Linked DNA regions of Homo sapiens. The protein of the gene in region 1 purifies or fractionates together with the protein of each later gene. This does not show direct contact. Each region holds a gene or a part of one and is shown in the gene's direction. Other genes may lie near its edges. The genes, in order: ALG10B and NPLOC4.

Region 1 (12,103 bases):
TTCATAGTACTGTAGGCACCTGTGGGTTGGCCGCTATGACTCTGTGAATTTCCATCTCAGAACAAAGGCTAAAGATACAATCCCTATTTAGTACCTGACATTCTTATGGCAGAGGAAAAAGTGCAGGAGTTAATTGTTTAGTGGCTTTTTACATTTCTGCTAGAATGTAATACACAGTTGATTTCTACTGTTTGAGGTAGTAATGTTCCATAAAGAATATTATTTATTGTGTATTAAAATATATTATTTGAAATATATTAATATAATTAATTATATATTCTTAATTATATAGTGAAAGATAATTAATAGTGGTGTTACGAATAATCAAGTTAAAAAATGAATAGCCTTCCACAGAAATTCTTATATTTGCAGCTTTTCGCCTAGGTCGGTGGCATTGAACATAAGGTGATTACAAAGTGCATAAGCATTTGACCCAAATGCATTTGTGATAATTACTTATTTTTCATTAATGAAAGCATGTAGTATTTTCAGTAAAGCTGTTATATTTTATATTACATTGAGAAATAAGAGGTTTATGAATAGGTAACTTGAATAAAAATATTTTGATCAGCCATTTAACACATTAATTAATTTGATTCAACTATTTGTATCTGGCTAGTTAGGATTTAAAGAAAATCTATCTGCAAGACTTTCACTTATACCCATGAGGGATTAGGCATAGAACCATACACTGAAAATGTGTGAATTTTACTGTGCATAAATTATATCTCAATAAAAATAATTTTCAAAAAATATCTGTATAGACATTTTAAGTTGTAGTAAATAATATAGGACGTTTTATTAAACAAGTTTTTGATTGCCGGTATTACTGCTGTTTAAGTTAAGGAAATAGTTGGGAATGGTATAACAGGATTCATGGCAGTAGAAAGCCAAAAGTATTGATTTAATTTCTCTCAACTTCAAAAAAAAAAAAAGAAAAAAAGAGAGAGACAGAGAAATAAAAAAGTCTCAGTTCAAGAGCTGATTACAAGGTTTGCCATTTGTAGTATAAGACTATCATCACATCTGCTTAGAAATGAAACACACATAAAAGTGTTGGCCAGGATACCAGAGAGCAGAGAGAAGGAACTCCAACCTACAAACTGATTTATTGGCTGCTTCTGCCTCATTATAATTAATACGTGTCCATTTTTCTGAGGAATTTGGCTAAGATTTGCTTTCACTGCAATGAGCTATCTGATAACATGTTTGCAGAGGTGGAAAAGTAGAGTGCTCTACCAATGAAGAATACCTATAATCATGAAAAAAATTAAAGTTCTGGAACATAACAAAAAGCCAAATTAGTTTATGCTTGCTTGATAAATAACCTTCTTGACATTCAGCACTGAATTCTCAAAAATAAAAGAAAGGGCTAAGTTTAGGTTGAGTGTTGAGCATTCTACTAAATGATGTTGGCCAAACAAAAACACTATGTTAAATATTTATTATATTAAATTTTTAAGTTACCAGGTCAAAAATATCACCTTACACATCTTCTGGACATAATACAAAGTTGTTTATTTTATTTTACTTTTTAAGTTAAATTTTCATTTGTTGCAAGGTAATAGAACATTTCTCAAACTACACAGGGTAAATAACTAGTTTTATTCTAAATTTCCAACCTATCATGGATTAATAATTCTATGAAATATAACAAAAATGAATTGTTAGAAAAGTGAAAGAAAAAACAGACATATAAAATATAAGCTCACTTTTAGTATTAATTCTACAAAAATAAAATTACTCTGCCATACTGCTATAAAAATTTCTAAAAGCTTATTCTTAATTTCTGTACTTACATGTTCAAAAATAGTAATACAGGGATCTGAACAGGCACCAGTCCACAAAACACACTTTTAAATGAACATCTGTGTTTCTTCCAAAGGTAAAATAAGTGCAATAAGCTTATAATTGTTCTAAATAAGGGTCACTATCTTTGCCAAACTTTGATTTGTTTTTCCAAGATTTAACTGTTTTCAATAGTTTGACAGTTACCTTGGTAAATTGAAATAACAAGCCTATGTTGCCATTTCTTGACTTTTTCTTATTTTTATTTATTATTATTTTAATTTTTATTTTAGGTTTGGGAGTACATGTGAAGGTTTTTTACATAGGTAATCACATGTCATGAGGATTGGTTGTGACGGACTTCTTCACGAAAAACTGGACAATTGACTTGAATTAAACTTTTATAAATGAGAATATTCAAATGACCAATAAACATATGAAAAAAGCTTATTTTCATTCGTCATTAGGTAAACACAAATTAAAACTACAATGAGATGCCATAACATATGCACCAGAATGGGTAACAAAAAACTAACAATACTAGGTGTTGATAAAGATATGAAAGAAGAAAAACGCTCATATACTGCTTGAAGTATAAATTGGTACAACCACTTTGGAAGACCCATTGTTAATATTTAACCTAGAAAATGCACCAATTTATGAGACTCTCATTACAATCCTAGGTATATACTCTACAAAATATGTGCTTAGGTAATATAATCAAGACACACACACACACACACACACACACACACACACACACTCTTCAAATTCTAGTGGAGATCTGTTTTTATCTTGTGCTAAGTGCTGAGCCCTGAATGTCAAAAGTCTTCCTCTCAGTATTCCTGCTCCATCCTCAACTTTCAGCACTCTTTGCAAGCCTGCACCTCAGAGGGATTTTTCTCCCCATGCTTTGTCCCATTCCTCAACAGTTGACTTCTTGTCACTCAGGGCCAGCCAGGTTCATAGCGGGAGGTGAGGAGGTAGGTTCAGTGCTCCTAGCCCATCTTCAGTGGTAGACACATCCTGCTTGAGACCCTACCTGAGTGGGGGAATGGAGGGCTTTCAAGTTGTTCCTGTTCCTCCTCACTATAGTAGCCAAACTGTGCCTTGCATGCATGGTGTTTTAGAGCCAGGGAGTGTTCAAGGCCTCTCCAGTAGGAGCACCATACCTCTGCTTTGAATTACTGAAGGATGGAGGCCTGAAGACCTTCCTGCCACTCCATTGAGGGCAAAAGATTTTTACTTCTCTCCCTCCTCCAGGATCTTTGGCTGCTTCCTGGGGTGGAAGTATCTCACCTTCCTCAGAGAACTAAGGCTTTTTCTTCACATGATTGAAGGGCCCAGATAAGTGTGCGGTGTGTTGTTCATTCCCCAGAGGCAGCCAATCATGCCATGTGTGCCTGTATCTCCATCAGAGTCTGGTTTCTCACCTGCTTCCATTATTTTTTTGGATGATGACATCACTATTGTAAGATATTTTCACTACCAAAAATAATAGTAATGAATTATTAATATTGTAAATAATGAACTTTAAAAAATTACAAACATAGCCATCCTGAGTGGCAGTCACATTGGGTGGATATTTGAGTGCTGACCAGTAAACAATACTACAATCAGTAAACATAAACTAAAACATAACTGGAATCAGTAAACAAACTATAACCTAACTGGTGGCAAAAGTAACAAATTGGTCCTGATTCTGTTGAAGTTGTCAGCATCCTCTAGTGGAAATACATGTTTTTAAAAAGCACGTTTTTAAATGCAGAGACCTTTCTCACACATTTTTGCAGTCATTGAAATTTGGCAGTTATGGAAACTAACATTTGGAGGCAGTAAAAAACAGTGTAGTGTTTCATTTTATTATAGTAAATAAATGTAAATTATTTAATACAGTTTGTTGCCTCATTCAGAAAACCAACCCAAAATGAAGCAAGAACAAAAGGAAATCTAGAAAGAACAGGAACCACAGGAGATCAGAAACTACTGATTCAATGTTTCTGCTTTGTCTGGTGAAAATAAAATCTCTATGAGGGTTTCTGTATTTAAATTTAATTAATGAAAAGTCAGGTGATCTCCATTCTCACTAAATTAGAACATGCACATGTTTAAAGAGCAATATTCTGAATGTACGCCAAACTTTTAGCCAGTGCAGGGTACCTAATGCTCAGCCTAAGGATGCCCACTTGTTTTACTCTGCTTCTAAAGCCAAAAGGGAATTAACCAGAAACCCTCCTCAATATTTCACAAAACCTCTATTTTCAGTAATAACAATTGTATCATAAATCTCACTCTAACGTCTGAAATTTTAAAATTAGTAAGATCATATTACTGTGTCTCTTAAACTGTAAAATTATTTAAGAATTAAAATTAATTCAATGTCTTCTCTTCTAACTTTTTACTTTGGTTGATTTAATAGTACTGTAATTTCATCAGTATAATAGTGCAATTCATTTAATAATCAATTTATGATTCTCTTAAATTTTATGCAGTTTAAAGGAAAAGGAATTCATGAAGTTTCTTTTCCTGGAATGTTTCTTATCTAACTGGCAGCAATAGCTGTAGGACTATGGTTTTTAAGCTACTTATTTTAGCAAAAAGCACAGTTCCCCTTCGCATAGTTTTTTGAAAGAAAAGCCATCTGTCTGAATATAAATATATGTAACTAAAAGCCATTAAATTGTAAGTATTTAAGTTCCTCTTCTTCAGCTGCTGAGGAGGAACATCGTCTATATGTTCATTGGCAATGAACTTTGTTCCTTGGCAGGGTGAAGCCTGGAGATGAAGAATTGGAGAAACCAGGGGACAAAGCAGCATGAGTGATCAGAAAAGCAAGGGGAATGTAGAGGACAGCAGTATTCTCAAACTTTCATGTCCATCAGGTCCACTTGGGAATCTAAGGGAATCATAAGTGATTACAAAATGAACGTTAAAACATGTATTACTTGGCTCCCTCTGCTATCAGAATTTGTTTTCCGGTAGGTCTAAGGCAAGACTTAATTATTTGCACTTCTAACAGGTTCCCAGGTGATACTAATGCTGTGGTACAGGGACCACACTTTAAGAACCACTGTTATAAAAAAAAAACATTTAGGAAGTTTTGCTTTGGGTTGTATGGTATATCTTTCTAAATGACCAAGTGTATTAGGCCTTTTTCACACTGCTATAAAGAACTGCAGAAGACTGGGTAATTTATAAGGGAAAGAGGTTTAACTGACTCACAGTTCAGCATGGTTGCAGAGGCCTAGGAAACTTACAATCATGGTGGAAGGCGAAGGGGAAGCAAGTCACCTTCTTTACAAGATGGTAGGAAAGAGAATGAATGCAGGAGGAACTATCAAACACTTATAATACCATCAGATGAGAACTCACTCAGTATCATGAGAACATCATAGGGGAAACTGCCCCAAGGATTCAATTATCTCCGTCTGGTCTCTCCGTTGACACGTGGGGATCGTGGAGATTATGGGGATCATAATTCAAGGTGAGATTTTGGGTGGGGACACAGCCAAACCATATCACCAACCATTCTCTTTGTCTGATACTACAGAATTTACCTGGCCTGAGACTTTCAAGGGTAAAACTGGAAAGTCTGCCACAAACCAGAAAGATTTGTTCTATGAAAGTTATCAGAATCAAAATGGGGCCACTTGCATAAAAACCCTGAAAAATGGAGCTAAGGAAGACCAGAAAGGGAGGGTTTATATGCGTGTATGCCTGACAACAGGAACTACGACAAAAGACTGCACAAACCACAACTTTGCACAAAGGCCACCACAATCTCACAAAAAATTACTTCTGTGAGGACATTTGCCCAGCAACTGCCTGTCCAACCTCAAACTGGTGCCACCCTTTCTACCAGTCCTTGTAACCAAGGATAATTGTCTCAAAGCAATTTATGTAACCCTCTTCATTTTTCTTTTAAAATCCCTTGTCTTCTTTTACCTCCCTATGTTCATTGTATTCTCACCAAATAAATATTACTGTTTTTTAGAAGGGTCTCTCCGTGTGTGTGTTACTTAGGTTTAACCAGTCCCCTATACAATGTCTTCAAGACATTTTCAGTAGAGCTAAAATACTTGCTAATGCTTTTGTACTAAAATGTTGTGTGTTTTTTTAATTGATTCATTAATTTTAAAATTTAGATTTTAAATTGATATGTTAAGATTGACCTCAAGGGTAGAGTTGCATTTTAGAGGTTATCATCTGTGATTTTTGGCCCAGGGTGCAGTACTCTGCTGTAGCTAGAACGAATTGTCACCTAGAAAGGAGTAAACCGTCACTCTGATTAGCAAGTGGCCAATGTTTTCATTCAGCAACAAGTGAAAAGGGGTGCAATAAGAGGCAGGGTGTTTCTTGGACTAATACTTCAAAGTTATTACAGTTACAGCCTTTGGGGAAATTCACTGTTCAGATATGGCTGTTTCAAACAGTTAAGTATATGCTATGTTGTCTGAGTTCATCAAATTAGGAATGTCTTAATTGATCAAAGTCAGCTAGGTTATACCAGAGAAATAAAGTCAAAATCTTAATGGCTTATAAACCAAAAAAGATGTATTTCTTGCTAAAACAACCTATCCTTAGAACCCCAACAGAAATTGCCCATTTTTCTGCCGTAACTTATTTATCATAATTCAAGTAGCACAAATAAATAGTTGATGTGCAATTATAATGGGATTGCTCATCCTAATGACTCTTTTTCACAAACATCTATGGAAAATGGCAGTTGGAATTCTGAATGGAAAATATAAGTTGAAATCAATGCTGATCTAGTTTTAAATGATAGGTCTAATAAAATGTAGTCTATTTCATTAAAACCCCAGAGGTAGCTATTTTACTAGGTCTTGATTTAGGAGCAGAGCTTTGGAAAGCATTTCAAGATTATCAAAGATGCTGTAATCTAAGAGTAGAAAAGTGACAACAGCTTCATCGATTTGCAGATAGTAAAAGTAACTCACTAACAAATGAGTGAAGTACTCTATGAAGAACTCTACTGGGCCCATGGAGCTTCTTAGCATTCTTAGGTAATATGTTTTACATCAATCGTTTCCAAATATGAAGATCAGTATTCAGTGATTTGAGATGGCTCTCTAGAATCTAGTTTTTCACAATGATCCCCCAGCAGATTTTGATGTAATTAGTCTGTAAGACGAACATTTTTTTAAAAGATGAAACTTGTATTTCAAATTGGTGTATGGAAACAGAGAATAGTGGAATGTAAATGTAAAGTTATTGGGACTAGTGAAACATTCAATTCAGTATATATTGTAGATTATTTTAACCTATAAGGCTGTGAAGTTATTTTATTACTCTTGGTCTGATGTTCTAATTCCTACACTTGGTTCTGACACTAATTTTTTATGTAATTTTAGGTAAATTATTCATTTTTTAAAAATCAGCTTCTTTTATAAAATGAAGTCAAGTAGATTATTAATAAAGATCCCTAGCCATCCTAAAACCCTATATTTCCTTGAAACTTTCCATTTTATGTAAAGCGATGTGTGCAGCATGTATAGGAGTCAAATGTTTAACATAAACTATTGGTGGCAATTGTTATGAAGAAAAATGGAGAGCATAAATGTCTAGTCTTGTTCTACTCCCTTTAAAAACGGCCCACTATTTCTAGGGTGGGTCAGTAAGCTGCAGAGTATATATAACACGATTTAGCAGGTCAATAGGTCAGGGGCTAATTACTCGTAGATCACATCAACCTCTTGAAGACTGAATCATCTGGAGATGTGTTACAAGTGACTTAAACAGATAAGTACAGCATGGAATCAATAATAAAATGGGAGATGATGGTTAAAGCAAAGCTAAGCATCACATCAGAGTAGAATCCTGACATGATTTTATTCCAGTAATGTAAATATTCCCGTCCCAGCCCTCATTCACCACTACCTCCTCTTATCATTGAGGAAACAGGCAGAGACAGACTGGAAAGGCAGTCAGCTTGATTTAAGAAACTTTCTTAAGTTCAGAAATACTGAATTATTTTTAACCCAGAAAAAGAGCTCAATTGAGAACTCTGAGGTTTGCAACCTTAAATCCCGACTCAATCTGATATATGCCTGCCAAAGGCAACCTGACTGAGGTTACCTGAGAGAAAGTTTTTCTACAAAACATGGCCAACCATGCTCAAGACAAAATTCCAACACATAATTTATCTTCGGCATTCTTCAAATTATTTACCACATCTCCTGCCCCCAACACCTAATCCCAGAATACAGGAATTTGATGATGTCTACACAGCCTATAAAAGTCCACAAATTTAAGTGCCTACTGTGTGAAAGCCATTTGGGGGACTACAAACATAAAGGATGTATAATGCCACCCACTAAGATGTTCACGCTTATGATTTAGTAGGAAAAACAGAAGGCTGCCTTATAAATATTAACAACCTAATTTACAGGCACACCTAAAACATCCCAAATTCTAAAATATATATTTTCTTCCAAATCCTACAGGGTAATATGGCTATGAGAGTGCACTAGGAGTGTCAATTTTACTAAATCCTCTGAGAGCATCCACATTTTGAAAGAGTTCTCTCTTAACCTAAACAAACAAACAAACGAACAAACACTCCTCTCACTGAAGTTCATTCGGCATTGACGGGTCTCTGGTTCTTCAAGTTTTCATCTGAAAGTCTCAGTCTTTGCTATCACAACCAACGCCCCCTTCCTACACTCCAAGGTTGATGGAATGAAATGTCTTGGAATTGAGGGTTTAATTAATTCGGATCACTGGAGAGAAAGAAAAGAAATAACGGGGGAAAAAAATGTGTTAATTTTAGGGCTTGGAATTGGAAACGTGGGGAAACGTCGCCACCTTCTGGTAAGTGATGGAAATGAGCAGGAAAAAAGATCCAAGCTAAGAAGCGGCTTTTTTTTTTTTCCAAAGCAGCAAGCCACGCCCCTCCCGCGCTCGCGAAATCCGAGACCCGCCCTTTCCGGAAGTTTTGACACTGTGCGCCCCGAGTAATGTGATGGAGAGGGTAATCATCCGGTCCGTTATCTAAACCCGTCACTCCAGGAAACAGCGACCCGCTGTTTTCCGGATCCGCGCTCTCCCAGCATCCTTTGCCTTCCGGTATGTGGCCCCGTCTGGCTAGTCCTGTCTAGCGCGCCCATTTCGAGCCCAAGTTTCCAGCTCGGGTTTCCGGGCTCAGAATTTTCCAGGAGTGGGTTCTTGGGCAGTGGCTGTGGGAGCAGGAATGGCGCAGCTAGAGGGTTACTGTTTCTCGGCCGCCTTGAGCTGTACCTTTTTAGTGTCCTGCCTCCTCTTCTCCGCCTTCAGCCGGGCGCTGCGAGAGCCCTACATGGACGAGATCTTCCACCTGCCTCAGGCGCAGCGCTACTGTGAGGGCCATTTCTCCCTTTCCCAGGTGGGGTGCCCAACCTGTCCCCACCCCAGGAGAGGCCTGAAAGGTCCCAGCGTCCCCAGCTCCTTCTCCCATCTTTAGACTTAACTCGTCCCTTTCCACCCCACCCCAGCCTCAGAACATGAAAGAAACTGGGTATAGTCTTTTGTTCCTGTCTCTGAGATCTGTGAAATATTTATTAAATGAATGAATAAACAGCAGATCTGATCCCCAGGGAGGAGTGATCTGGGAGAATACTTAGTGGGGAACTGAGCGCTCCTCTTGGCAGCTGACAATATCGATCCCACTTTGTTTTTCCTTGTCTCAGGATTAAAGGCATTCGGGTGCTCCTTGGAAATATCAGAAAACTTCCCTTTAGCTCACCTGTTAAGCACCTCACTGTGCATTTTAGGGGTGGGATAGGGTGGACTGGAGGGATCTTCGGCTACCAAAAAGTGACAATTTATAATCACAAATTCCTTCCCTGGGTATTTTTAGTGAACTATCTGTTGACTGGATAAACTGGCAACCAGTCAAGTCACATCATTTTTGAATATATATTTGACTGTGCAAGTATGTACATATAAATATCAAAATAAACATCCCCTGCTTTTCTGGTGACACAATATAGGGTACTGGCTAGAAATATAAAGTCTGTTTTAGAGAAAGATCTGATCTTAAATCTTGGTGCTGTGATTTACTAGTTTTGTGATCTTGGAGATGTTCTGAGTTTCAGAAATTCAGGTTACTCATCTGCAAAATGACAATAATCTTTACTATAGGGCATATTGTAATGTTACAATACAGAGGGTTTGGCACAATTTCTGTCTCAGTTTATGTCAGCTGTCATCATGGAGCCTGTGGTCCAAATGTTTTCCTAAACTTAGAGTCCCAAACAATGTTTCCATGCTTTTAAAAACTGGAGCATTTGCAGTTTATTTATCAAAATAAAGGCTTTTAAAGAACATTTCTTGGAAAATAGAAATAGATTTTAAGTTGTTGTTTATTGGTTGCTGCTACCTGAACCATCACTAAGCTGGTCCGGGGGCAAAAAATAAGAAAAACTAATCCTGTTCTGCCAAGGACTTACTTAATCTTGTCATAGACTAACTTCTCAAAATTTCTGATTGTTGCTGGAGATGAGACTTGGGCTTGACATATTTGTGTCTGTCTTGTTCGTATTACCTCTTGCTTTTACTTCATTTTCTTTCATTTTAAAGTGGGATCCCATGATTACTACATTACCTGGCTTGTACCTGGTGTCAGTTGGAGTGGTCAAACCTGCCATTTGGATCTTTGCATGGTCTGAACATGTTGTCTGCTCCATTGGGATGCTCAGATTTGTTAATCTTCTCTTCAGTGTTGGCAACTTCTATTTACTATATTTGCTTTTCCACAAGGTACAACCCAGAAACAAGGTATGTTTCAAAATACTTAATTACAAGTTTATGTGTAGTCAGGTCCACAATTACAATGAATTAGTTTTATGAGATTTGGTGAAAAATGTCTTTAACACTTTGTAACTTTGTATTTTTTGTATATTATGTAAAGGTAAATTTAAATTCTCCATCTCCATTTTAGAATAAATTTGTATTTAAATACTTGAATAACTTATTTGTAAACTCTAAAGTAAATATTTGTTAAGTGAGTCAAACCAGTTCAATAAATACTTACTGAGCTTATTCCATGTGCTGGGGACTGGGACTACAGAGATAAATGAGGCAGTCTTTTTCTTGTAAAACGTATATATTCAGTAGGGAAAACAGACTTTACCTGAGGACTTTTGATGTGGTAATAGTGCAGGCCCCGGAGGTCGATTGCCTGGGTTAGAATTCTCTCCCTGCCACTTAACCAGTTTTGTTACTGTGGGCAGGTTAACCCTTAGTGGCTCCATGTCTTCATCTGTTAAATAAGAATAACAATAGAATCTGCCTTATAGAACTGTTATAAAGGAACAAGGAAACTTAATAAATGGAAGATGCTTCAAATAGTGCCAGATATATAGTAAGGGCTCAGTAAATATTAACTCTAATAATTATTTTTAACCTTAAGAGATTATTTCAGTAGTGTCAATTATGATAGAGTAGTAGACATAAGATGCTATGAGGACACAGAGAAGGAGCAGGGAAACACTTACTGCTTTTCTGGGAGGGAGAGGAGTATGTGGCATTCAGTAAGTCCTCACAGAGAAGATGGTACCAGAGCTGAGTCCTGATGAACGGATAGGGCTGTGTAGGGTGAGGAATTAATCCTGGGGAGACAAACAGCATAAGCAAAGGAAGAAAGGCATTGAACAATGAGGTGCAGGGAATTGGTCTTGGAATTACAGGATTAGAAAGTAGAGGGATGTAAGGCTAGAGAAGTAGGTCATGAATGCCCTCATATGTCACAGAGAGGACTTTGAACTTTAGCATGTAATGGAGAGACCTTAATTTTAATCAAGGAAATGACATGGTCTGATTTAGTGATTTAGATTAAGTGGAGTATACAATTCAAGAACATAAGAACACTTTCAAATTCTGAAATAGCATGTCAGAAAGGCCAAAATAAGATATATAAGTTTAGACTGGCTCACTTTTCAGAAAAATACCGTTATTTCATCATGAAAATATCATCTTGAAAAAGTAAGTCTGGATATGGTAAAATAAATACCATATGCATGTTTACATTCTCCCTTGTGTAGTGTTATGAAGGATTTCCTTAAAGGAAAGTGGTGATTATGGCTAAGTGAATCCTTATTGAAGGCACTAAAACATAAGCTCAGGGAAATGGAGCCAGCATTGTGTCCTATTTATCTCCATAGTCCCCACAGAACTTAGTCGGTATCTTGCACTCAGTAACTCCTTAACTAATCATAGCCTGATTCAAATTGTGTTAAGCTATAGAAGCTTTGGCATACACACGGTCTCCAAACTGATAGGTATAAATAAAAAGTACCAGGAAGTGTTCTTATAAATG
Region 2 (12,180 bases), on another chromosome or scaffold:
ATGGAACTTGTGTAGAGGGGCTTCCTCACCAGCCACAGGGGCTGGCCCACATGGCTGCCCTTTTCTTTCCCCTCTGAAACCAGTCCTCACATCCCAGCACCCATTCTTCGGCCCCACCAACGGCCCGCACTGAGTGTGGACACGGCACTGGACCCTGCTGCCGAGGACAGGACAGTGCCCTGCCCAACAGGCTCCCAGGACAGGGAGGAGGGTGCCCAAGAGCCCAGGAAGACCGCCTGGAGGCTGCAGGGCCTTCAGAGGGGACCCCCTGGCCCACTGGCAGGAAAGGCTTGCTGGTCTCTCTCTGTGGGGGAAGAGGCAGCCCCGCAGGTGCCCAGTTCTGCCGGGAAGAGTTTTTTTAAAAAGGAGAATAAGAAGCTATGGCCGGGCTGGACGTTGTGGCTCACGCCTGTCATCCCAGCACTTTGGGAGGCTGAGGTGGGTGGATCACCTGAGGTCGGGAATTCGAGACCAGCCTGAGCAACGTGGAGAAACCTCATCTCTACTAAAAAAAAAAAAAAAAAAAAAATTAGCCGGGCGTGGTGGCACACACCTGTAATCCCAGCTACTTGGGAGGCTGAGGCAGGAGAATCGCTTGAACCCAGGAGGTGGAGGTTGCATGAGCAGGAGGCAGAGGTTGCATGAGCAGAGATCGCGTGACTGCACTCCAGCCTGGGTGACAGAGCGAGACTCCATCTCAAAAACTAAATAAATAATAAAAAGCAGCCATGGCTGTGTGCTGGGCAAGGATCCCATTCCAATCCAGTTTCACCAGGAAGAAGCTGATCACAGCATCAGGCTCTCAGCTCACTGCAGCCTCAAACTCCTGGGCTCAAGCCATCCTTCCTCCTCAGCCTCCTGAGTAGCTGGGACTACAGGCACTGCAACCATGTCCTGGTAATTTTTTTTTTTTTTTTTTTTTTTTGAGACGGAGTCTCGCTCTGTCGCCCAGGCTGGAGTGCAGTGGCGGGATCTCGGCTCACTGCAAGCTCCGCCTCCCGGGTTCACGCCATTCTCCTGCCTCAGCCTCCCAAGTAGCTGGGACTACAGGCGCCCGCCACTACGCCCGGCTAATTTTTTGTATTTTTAGTAGAGACAGGGTTTCACCGTTTTAGCCGGGATGGTCTCGATCTCCTAACCTCGTGATCCGCCCGCCTCGGCCTCCCAAAGTGCTGGGATTACAGGCGTGAGCCACCGCGCCCGGCCGTCCCGGTAATTTTTTAAAATTATTTTTTGTAGGCCGGGCACGGTGGCTCATGCCTGTAATCCCAGCACTTTGGGAGGCCGAGGCGGGTGGATCACGAGGTCAGGAGATCGAGACCATCCTAGCCAACATGGTAAAACCCTGTCTCGACTAAAAAAAATTAGCTGGGTGTGGTGGCATGTGCCTGTAATCCCAGCTACTCAGCAGGCTGAGGCATGTGAATTGCTTGAACCGAGGAGGCGGAGGTTGCAGTGAGCCGAGGTTGTGCCACTGCACTCCAGCCTGGTGACAGAGCGAGACTCTATCTAAATATATATATATATATATATATATATAATATTTTGTAGAGACAGGGTCTCGCTACATTGCCCAGGCTGGTCTTGAACTCCTGGGCTCACGCAATCTTCCCTCCTCAGCCTCCCAAAGTGCTGGGATTACAGGAGTGAGCCACTGTGCCCGGCCCCAGAGGAGGGTTATTTATCACCCCCAAGACCTCAACAAGTCACTAGAAGCAAAAGGACAGGCTGTCAGTGCCTGGTTGGCCAGACTGGGGCCACTGGGGGCCAGAGGCCGTTGGAGGCTGGCTGCAAGGGACATTTGCCTTCACCCCCTCCTGCACCCTGAGCCAAAGATTGCCCCCAAGGCCCTCAGGGAGATCTGGCAGATCCCTTGACCAGAGGCCAGCATGGGGCTGAGAGAACTGCGCAGTGGGGAAGGGGGAGGGGGCTGCCTAGAACCACCCCCCTCAACCCAATCTCAGCATTGAGGTGTGGGGTGGCACCAGGGGCAGGGGTGGGTGTGAACCCAGCCCAGGGACTTCCCTTAGGACTTCAGGGCTGGGGACATCTCCAACCTCAGGGCAAGGCCACTTGGCATGGCTCACCTGGGACAGTAAGGGGCTCCTCTCCCCCTCCTCCATCCTTGACGCTGGAACAGAAAGCCCCCAGCACAGGCGCCGGGAGAGGTTCGCTGGCTCCTCTGTGGCTGGGCTGCTGGGCTGGTCCTGACTGCGGCCCTGGGCTAGTCTGTGAACAGTGCAGCCCTGGGCATGGGAATGGGGGAGGTGCGAGCCCTACCCAGATGCCGGAGTCACAGTTGAGTCATGTGAAGAATCACATTTTAGAGCTTAAGGAGGCCTCTGCTTGTGGAGATATATTTCTCCCCAGCCCTGGCTCTGTGGGTCCCCTAAGCTCAGCGCAGGTGTGACTCAGGCAGGCATGTTTGGGTGCCAGCCTTGTGGCTCTCACTGCAGCCCCCCATGCGGACTTCAGCTCTGCAGGGTCAGCAGCCGCTCCATCAGCTCCCAACCAGGGAATCAGACCCTGGTAAATTGGTTCACAACCCCAATCCCAAGAGACCCATGGGCAGCCCCAGCGCCAATCTATCCCCCGGCTTGTTCACTGCACGAATGAAACAGCGTCCCCCCACCAGATCACCTCCTTGTTTTTGTTTTTGAGACTGAGTTTCGCTCTTGTTGCCCAGGCTGGAGTGCAATGGCGCAATCTCGGCTCACTGCAACCTCGCCTCCCGGGACTACAGATGTACGCCACCTTGCCTCACTCATTTTTGAATTTTTTTTGTAGAGACAGGGTTCTGCTGTGCTGCCCAGGCTGGTCTTGAACCCCTGGACTCAAGTGATTCTCCTGCCTTGGCCTTCCAAAGTGCTGGGATTACAGGCTGGAGCCACTGTGCCCGGACTCAGCCACCAACACTCAGCAGTCCAAAGAGGTGGTCTGGGTGGTGCAGCACAGCAGGCAATGTACTGATGGAGCAGGCAGAGGGTTTCAGGCGCGCGTGAGACGCCTGGGTGGGAGCACACCGGGCAAGTTTTAGGAGGAAAGGTCACCTGGCTGTGTGGGGCAAGCGGAGATGGGGGTGGGAGGGAGGTCCATGAGGTGACAGGGCTGGATCAGGTGAGGCCTTGAAGGCCACTCTGAGTCTTCAGATCTTCCTCGGAGAAGTGGGATATGCTGCAGGTGGGAAGTCGGGGCGAGGACCAGAGCTGCAGGCTGAGCTTCTGGGCTCCAGCTTCCCTTCACCTCCCCAAAGGTGACAAACCCAACCTCATGGGCCCTGCAGCAGCTCCACAGCCAGGGTCACGGTCACAGGGACTGTCCACGGCCTCCAACTCAGTCTGTTCTAAGGATGGGTAACCTTTTTTTTTTTGAGACAAGAGTCTCGCTCTGTTGCTGAGGCTGGAATGCAGTGGCACGATTTTGACTCACCGCAACCTCTGCCTCCTGGGTTCAAGCGATGCTCCTGCCTTGGCCTCCTGAGTAACTAGGATTGCAGGCGCCACACCTGACTGATTTTGTATTTTTAGTAGAGATGGGGTTTCACCATGTTGGCCAGTCTGGTCTCGACCTCCTGACCTCAAGTGATCTGCCCGCCTCCTCCTCCCAAAGTGCTGGGATTACAGGCGTGAGCCACCACGCCCGGCCAAAGTCTGGGTAATCTTTTAATGAAACGATCATCATCTACCACTGTTATGGCTGAATTGTGCCCCTTACATTCTTATGATAAAGTTCTAGCCCCCCGGACCTCAGAATGGGACTTGGAGACAGGGCCTTTAAAGGCCATTAGGGGCTGGGCGCGGTAGCTCACACCTGTAATTCCAGCACTTAGGGAGGCCGAGGCAGGTGGATCATGAGGTCAGGAGATTGAGACCAGCCTGGCCAACATGGTGTGACCCTGTCTCTACTAAAAGTACAAAAAATTAGCTGGGCATCGTGGCGCATGCCTGTAATCCCAGCTACATGGGAGGCTGAGGCAGGGGAATTGCTGGGACCCAGGAGGCAGAGGTTGCAGTGAGCCGAGATGGTGCCGCTGCACTCCAGCCTGGTGACAGAGCAAGACTCCATCCCTAAATAAATAAATAAGTGCCATTAGCGTGGGCCCTAATCCAACATCCTTACAAGAAAATTGGGACACACGGTGGGACACATGGAGAGACACGAGGAATGTGTGCACAGAAGAAAAAACATGTGAGGTCTCGGGGAGAAGGTGCCATCTTCGAGCTAAGGAGAGAGGTATAAGAAGAAACCTGGCTGGGTACAGCGGCTTATGCCTGTAATCTAAGCACTTTGGGAGGCTGAGGTGGGTGGATTGATTGAACCTAGTAGTAGTTAGAGACCAGCCTGGGCAACATAGCAAGATCCCATCTCTACTAAAAATACAAAAAGTTAGCCAGGTGTGATTGTGAGCACTTGTGGTCCCAGCTACTGAGGAGGCTGAGGTGGGAGTATCACCTGAGCCTGGGAAGTCGAGGCTACAGTGAGCCACGATTGTGCCACTGCACTCCAGCCTCGGCGATGGGAGTGAGACCCCAGTCTTTTCTTTTTTTTTTTTTTTTGAGACGGAGTCTTGCTCTGTCGCCCAGGCTGGAGCGCAGTGGCGTGATCTCGGCTCACTGCAAGCTCTGCCTCCCGGGTTCACGCCATTCTCCTGCCTCAGCCTCCCGAGTAGCTGGGACTACAGGCACCCGCCACCACGCCCGGCTAATTTTTTTTTTATTTTTAATAGAGACAGGGTTTCACCATATTAGCCAGGATGGTCTCGATCTCCTGACTTCGTGATCCACCTGCCTCGGCCTCTCAAAGTGCTGGGATGACAGGCGTGAGCCACCGCGCTGGGATGACAGGCATGAGCCACCGTGCTGGGATGACAGGCGTGAGCCACCGCGCTGGGATGACAGGCGTGAGCCACCGCGCCCGGCCAAGACCCCAGCCTTAAAAGAAAAAAAAAAGAAGAAAACAAAGGAGAAACCACGTCTACTGACACCTTGATCTGGGATTCTAGCTTCCAGGACTGTTAGGAAGTAATTCCAGGCCGGGCATGGTGGCTCATGCCTATAATCCCAGCACTTTGGGAGGCTGAGGCGGGTGGATCACGAGGTCAGGAGATCGAGACCAGCCTTACCAACATGGTGAAACCCTGTCTCTACTAAAGATATAAAAATTAGCCGGGCGTGGTAGCGCACGCTTGTAATCTCAGCTACTCAGGAGGCTGAGGCAGGAGAATCGCTTGAACCCACGAGGCGGAGGTTGCAGTGAGCTGGGATCGCGCCATTGCACTCCAACCTGGGCGACAGAGGGAGATCCGACTCAAAAAAAAAAAAAAAAAAAAAGAAAAGTAATTCCAAACCACCACCCAGTCTGTGAGAGATTTTGTTATGTTATATTTTCTTATAACTGAGATAATTATTACAGTTAAAGAGATCGGACTTAACTGAACCCATCTTGCTTCTAACCTCCAAGCTGTCCTTGTTCATTCCTGGGTGTAGGCTGAAATAACTTCGGGAGGCGCTTAGTTTATAGTTTAGCTTTGAAACAAAGATGGTAACAGCCCTTTGCAAAACAAACTCCCTTCCTACCTGGGGACAAGACTGCCTTTTCAGGACTAACAAATTAGCCATAAGATTAGAAATTATGGTTTAGGAGTCATGTAGCTGGAGGCTACAAGATTCTAAACCTCCCAAATTGCTTCTCAGGATAACATCACTATTAAAAAACAGATCAGCGCTTGAGATATTTTGCAGACTCTGCACTCCATGGATCAGCTGGCACCACCCAGATTGATAAACTGGCTCATATCTTGTGGCCCCCACCCAGGAACCGACTCAGCACAAGAGGACAGTTTTGACTCCCTATCATTTCACCTCTGACCCAACCAATCAACACTCCCTACTTTCTGACCCCATACCCACCAAATTATCCTTAAAACCGCGGATCCCCAGCCGGGCACGGTGGCTCACGTCTATAGTCCCAGCACTTTGGGGAGGCCCAGGTGGGCGGATCACCTGAGGTCAGGAGTTCAAGACCAGCCTGACCAACATGGAGAAACTCCGTCTCTACGAAAAATACAAAATTAGCCAGGCATGGTAGTGTGCGCCTGTAGTCCCAGCTACCCGGGAGGCTGAGGCAGGAGAATCACTGGAACCCAGGAGGTGAAGGTTGCAGTGAGCCGAGATCGCGCCACTGCACTCCAGTGTGGGTGACAGAGTGAGATTCGGACTCAAAAACAAAAAAAAACAAAAAACAAAAAACTCTGATCCCTGAATTCTCAAGGACACTAATTTTTTTTGAGTAGTAATAAAACCTCAGTAACCTGTACAAGCTGGCTCTGTGTGAATTAAACTCTTTATTGCAATTCCCCTGTCTTGATAAAGTCTAGGCAGTGGGCAGGGACAATATGTTGGGTAGTTACAGTGGCACCCTGAGCAAACTAATACAATTACTAACATAATTTAATCAATTAATGTAATTTAACATAGTTTAAAAAAACTGTCACAGTAATTGTGATGTTGTGAAATATGTATACATTTAGTCTTCCGGTTTCCTGGTATCCAACTCCAAAAATCCTTAGAATCTGTGAAGTGACGTCTTTTTTTTTTTTTTTTGAGATGAAGTCTCACTCTGTCGCCCAGACTGGAGTGCAGTGGCACCAACTCAGTTCATTCTAACCTCCGCCTCTTCGCTTCAAGAGATTCTCCGGCCTCAGACTCCCGAGTAGCTGGGATTACAGGTGCCCGCCACCACGCCCAGTTAATTTTTGTATTTTTAGTAGAGACGGGGTTTCACCACGTTGGTCAGGCTGGTCTTGAACTCCTGACCTCAGGTGATCCACCTGCCTCGGCCTCCCAAAGTGCTGGGATTACAGGCGTGAGCCACCGCGTATGGCCTAATTTTGTATTTTGAGTAGAGACGGGGTTTCACCATTTTGGCCAGGCTGGTCTCGAACTTTTGACCTCAGGTGATCCGTCCACCTTGGCTTCCCAAAATGCTGGGATTACAGGTATGAGCCACCGCGCCCGGCCTGAAATGCAGTTTAAACTCGTTTGTTTTTCTTATGTTAAATTTAAAAAATACTTAAAAAAAAAAACATGAAGGTGTGATCCTGCCTTCCTGAAATTGTTTCTCTACTTACCTGTGCATGGAGAGAAGTTTGGAATGCTGTTTCCCCAATTATAATACGCTATAATACGCAGCAGTAGTTATTTTTGGGTGAGACTTCGGATGCTCGTCTTTGCTTCCTTTTTGGACTTTCCTGTGCCGCTTGGGTTTCCGAGGACGAGCAGAAGTAATCTCAGACGCAACTTTCCAAAATCCCCTCCTCCAGTTGCAGGGATGGCGGGGGCGGGTCAGCGGCGCCGCCCTGCGCATGCGTCGAGCCGTTGGTGGGGCCGGAACCTGGTTTCCCGGCCTCGCGCCCGAGGGGAGCGTATTGAGCGAGGCACCGGGACGTCGGCGGCTGGCGGAGCCGGGCGGGCGAAGCTGGAGCGGCGGTGGCGGCGGCGTAGGGAGGCCGGGGCCGGGGCTGAGGCCGCGGCCGGGTCTGCGAGGCCCTTGGGGCGGCAGGCGGCGGCGGCCCGGGGCTCGAGCCCGGAGGCAGGAGCAGCCGCCATGGCCGAGAGCATCGTGAGTGCGGCGGCCGGGCGGGAGCGGGGACGCCGGGATGAGGCAGCAGATTTGCCGGCCTCGGCCTGTGGGGGAGGCGGGCCTGCCGGCGCCGCGACTCGGCCCCTTTCTCTTCTCTCGCCAGGGCTTTCTCTGTAGTGGCTGGGCCCCTCTCGGGGACTTTCACCCCCCTCGGCTGCTTCCCGTCCGTGTCCCTCCCCAGGGGACTTACGACCCCGGTTCCCCGCCCTGGGCAGGGAAAGGCCGAGCCTTTCTAAGCAGGGAGAATGGACTGTGGCGAAGAGAAACCGCCCTCCTTCCCCACCCGTTTCCCGGCTCCAGGAGACTTCCTGGTCTAATTCCAGGGACTCCCAGCCAGTCCTGCCCCTCTCAGAGCCAGGGACACCTCTTATCCTAATCTCCCTCTGATTCTCTCCTCCTGCTCTCCCGCTTCCCAGCAAGTGCCTTGTCATGAGTCACTAAGGAGAGCAGCTCTGCAGACGGGGACGTTACAGAGCTCCCTCCCCACCAGAAGACCTGGGAAAATGAAAACACAGTAACTTGCCGGCTTTGCTCCTTACTTGGAAGGACAACTTGACAATTCCTCTTTAAAAGGAATGTTGTAAATGATGTTGATTTCACTTTTTACCTGAAATTGAAATTGTCGGCCCGGCGCAGTGGCTCACGCCTGTGATGTCAGCACTTTGGGAGGCCGAGGCGGGTGGATCACCTGGGGTCAGGAGTTCGAGACCATCCTGGCCAACATGGCAAAATCTTGTCTCTACTAAAAATACAAAAAATTAGCCGGGCGTCATGGCGCACTGTAATCCCAGATACTTGGGAGGCTGAGGCAGGAGAATTGCTTGAACGCGGGAGGTGGAGGTTACAGTGAGCTGAGATCCCTCCATGGCACTCCAGCCTGGGCTATAGAGCGAGACTGCGTCTCAAAAAAAAAAAAAAAATTGTCACACACTCCTCCTTAACGTAAAAAATATCAGTGACAAATCAGAAAACCAGTCCCTCGTTAAGTTGTGAGAAGTTTCTTCCCAAAAGTAAATGTGATGGGAAAAAAACTAACTGACCATTGGACAGGAGCATTTTGGTTAATATTAAGGAAGATTTGGGATTTCTGGGGGAAGCTTAGCAGTATTGGGTGAAGAGTAATGTTCATACTGTAGCATTGTGACAGTCTCTGCAGTTTTGCCAGGTGTTGTCTAGAATAGGTCTCCAGGCCCGGCGCGGTGACTCACACCTGTAATCCCAGCACTTTGGGAAGCCCAGGTGGGTGGATCACCTGAGGTCAGGAGTTCAAGACCAGCCTGGACAACATAGTGAGCCTAGGTGGCGTCACTGGACTCCACCCTGGGCGACAGAATGAGACTGTCTCACACACACAAACAAATGGGTCTCCAGGAGAACCTAGCACTTATTTGCAAGGCTGTTCTCTGGTGGTTCCATCATCTCTCCAGTCAGGGGCCCTCTTGGTGCCTCCATGTTTCCCAACCTGGAGATGAGTGGAATGAATATATGGCCCAGGAGAAACTTAGGAAACGTCGACTCCTTTTTTTTTTTTTTTTTTAACCTTATTTTATTTTTTTGAGATGGAGTCTCACTCTGTCGCCCAGGCTGGAGTTCAGTGGTGCGATCTCTGCTTACTGCAACCTCCGCCTCTCGGGTTCAAGAAATTCTCCTGCCTCAGCCGAGTAGCTGGGGTTGCAGGTGCTCGCCAACACGCATGGCTGATGTCTTTTTTATTTTTAGTGGTGATGGGGTTTCACCGTGTTGGCCAGGTTGATCTCGAACTTCTGACCTCGTGATCCGCCCGCCTTGGCATACCAAAATGCTGGGATTACAGGCATAAGCCACCGCGCCTGGCCTTTAAATCTTTTTAATTAAAAACATTTTTTTATAGAGATGAGGTCTCTACTATGTTGTACAGGCTGGTCTCTGAGCTCGAGGGATCCTCCTACCTTGGGGTCCCAAAATTGCTAGGATTACAGTCCTGAGCTACCATGCCCGGCCAAGAAACCTTTGACTCCTTTGAAAAATAAAATGTGGCCATGCAGTGGCTCACGCCTGTAATCCCAGCACTTTGGGAGGCCGAGGTGGGCGGATCACGAGGTCAGGAGTTCAAGACTGGCCTGACCAACATGGTGAAACCCTGTCTCTACTAAAAATAAAAAATTAGCCGGGTGTGGTGGCATGCACCTGTTATCCCAGCTACTCTGGAGGTTGAGGGAGGGGAATCGCTCAAACCCGGGAGGTGGAGGTTGCAGTGAGCCCAGATTGCGCCACTGCACTCCAGCCTGGGCGACAGAGCAAGACTGTCTCAAAAAAAAAAAAAAAAGTGTTAATCATTGGTGACTTTGCCTAGAAATAGGTTAGGAATTAGCACTGAAACCTTCTTTCAAACTACCTTTGTACTTTTAACTGAGTTAAAATAACCATTGACAAGTGAAAAGTGTTTCAGACAAGGCCATTTTTTTTTTCCCACTAGTGTATAAGGCTAGGCTCTCATTGACAGCATTGGATCTCGTTGAATGTCTCAGATTGTGAGGAATTAAAACACTCTTCTTTTGAAATTGATTTAAAAAGTTATTTTGAATTTAAGAAAGAGATCTTTTGAAAAGTTTCTGGGCTGGGCATGGTGGCTCACACCTGTAATCCCAGCACTTTGAGAGGCCGAGGCAGGTGAATAATGAGGTCAGGAGTTGAGACCAGCCTGGCCGACATGGTGAAACCACGTCTTTACTAAAAATACAAAAATTAGGGCGTGGTGGCTCACGTTTGTAATCCTAGCACTTTGGAAGGCCGAGGCAGGTGGATTGCCTGAGCTCAGGAGTTTGAGACCAGCCTGGGCAACACGGTGAAACCCCACGTCTACTAAAAAAAAAAAATACAAAAAATTAACCGGGCGTGGTGGCGTGCACCTGTAGTCCCAGCCACTCAGGAGGCTGAGGCAGAAAAGTTAGAACCCGGGAGGCGGAGATTGCAGTGAGCCGAGATCGCACCACTGCACTCCAGCCTGGGTGACAGAGTGAGACTCTTAAAAAAAAAAAAAAAATTAGCTGGGCGCGGTGGCGGGCGCCTATAATCCCAGCTACTTGGGAGGCTTGAGGCAAGAGAATTGCTTGAACTCGGCAGGCAAAGGTTGCAGTGAACCGAGGTCGCGCCATCGCACTCCCACTCTGGGTGACAGAGCAAGACTCTGTCTTGGGGGGAGAAAAGAGTTTCTGTGGATTTAACTGTATCTCACCAGTTCTTCAACTTCCCCAAGAAGCGTTCTAGTCTTATTTTCTTATAAATAGGGAAACTTAAGTTACCAAGAGGCTGTGTGTTCATGTTGTCAGGTCTGTCTCTTCCTGTGTATTTCATTTTGTAGTCTGTGTCAGAGGCTAGGCCAGAACTTTCCATCGTACAAATTATGTTTGTCTCTTGTTAAATACTGGAGTTGGCCTTGGAAACCTGGACTCCCATCTTCTGTGGTAGAGGATCAAGTAGGATGACTTCTTCACCTTAGAATTCTGCAGCCTGAACCATTTAGCTCTGTAAAGAATGGCGGTAACATGCTCTTGTTCCAGAGTCATCGTTTGAAGGAACATTCACATGTTCCCCTTCATTAGAACAGAGCTTTCCTTTTTAAGATAGCTAAGTGTTGGCAGACAGATTTTAGAAACAAATAAGTGGAAGTATTTACCTAATGCTATATATTGTGAAAACGTTTTTCTGGGGTATTGAATCTAGAATGAAGTATACTAGACGTTAGAAGTATAAAGAATTGTATTTCTTTTCTTTTTTTTTTTTTTTTTGAGACGGAGTCTTGCTCTGTCACCCAGGCTGGAGTGCAGTGGCGCGATCTGCTCACCACAAGCTCTGCCTCCTGGGTTCACGCCATTCTCCTACCTCAGCCTCCCAAGTAGCTGGGACTACAGGCGCCCTCCACCACGCCTGGCTAATGTTTTGTATTTTTAGTAGAGATGGGGTTTCACCGTGTTAGCCAGGATGGTCTCAATCTCCTGACTTAAAAGTTGAGAACATATTGGGTGGAGCCTTTTCTGCCAAGTGAAAGTTATGGGAAAATGCAGGACAGGGTTATCCTATTTTAGGAAAATCTAGATTAGGCTTAGTTACTTTACTAAAAGCGGACAAATCCCAGTAGACTGAGCCTTTATGGTGTTTTGTCCTGTATCAGTGGAAATCTTTTTTAGACAATGGCTTGTGACAGTTTTCATCTGCATAATGGTTGAAGAGGATGTTTAATGTAACACTCGTGGTAACCTCACAGAAAATAGTTATAGAATTTATGAAAAAGGAAATAAGGGAGGCCGGGTGTGGTGGTGCACACCTGTAATCCCAGCACTTTGGGAGGCCCAGGTGGGTGGATAACTTGAGGTCAGGAGTTCGAGACCAGCCTGGCCAACGTGGTGAAATCCCATCTCTACTAAAAATACTAAAAATTAGCCAGGCGTGGTGGCAGGCACTTGTAATCCCAGATACTCAGGAGGCTGAGACAGGAGAATCACTTGAACCGGGGAGGCAGAGGTTGCAGTGAGCCGAGATCACGCCATTGCACTCCAGCCT

The links.
Region 2: the proteins of ALG10B (region 1) and NPLOC4 purify together in Homo sapiens (affinity purification with mass spectrometry; 2 studies listed by BioGRID and IntAct, with this or other methods). This does not show direct contact.

Annotation. Positions count from the first base shown.
Region 1 is NC_000012.12:38,307,896-38,319,998, forward strand, and holds the start of ALG10B (dol-P-Glc:Glc(2)Man(9)GlcNAc(2)-PP-Dol alpha-1,2-glucosyltransferase), read left to right. Parts: upstream 1-8,878; 5' UTR 8,879-8,998; coding exon 8,999-9,169; intron 9,170-10,365; coding exon 10,366-10,563; intron 10,564-12,103. UniProt on the Homo sapiens protein: Dol-P-Glc:Glc(2)Man(9)GlcNAc(2)-PP-Dol alpha-1,2-glucosyltransferase that operates in the biosynthetic pathway of dolichol-linked oligosaccharides, the glycan precursors employed in protein asparagine (N)-glycosylation.
Region 2 is NC_000017.11:81,632,356-81,644,535, reverse strand, and holds the start of NPLOC4 (nuclear protein localization protein 4 homolog), read left to right. Parts: upstream 1-7,423; 5' UTR 7,424-7,605; coding exon 7,606-7,620; intron 7,621-12,180. Other genes in the region: TSPAN10 (tetraspanin-10), read right to left, coding at 2,088-2,123. UniProt on the Homo sapiens protein: The ternary complex containing UFD1, VCP and NPLOC4 binds ubiquitinated proteins and is necessary for the export of misfolded proteins from the ER to the cytoplasm, where they are degraded by the proteasome.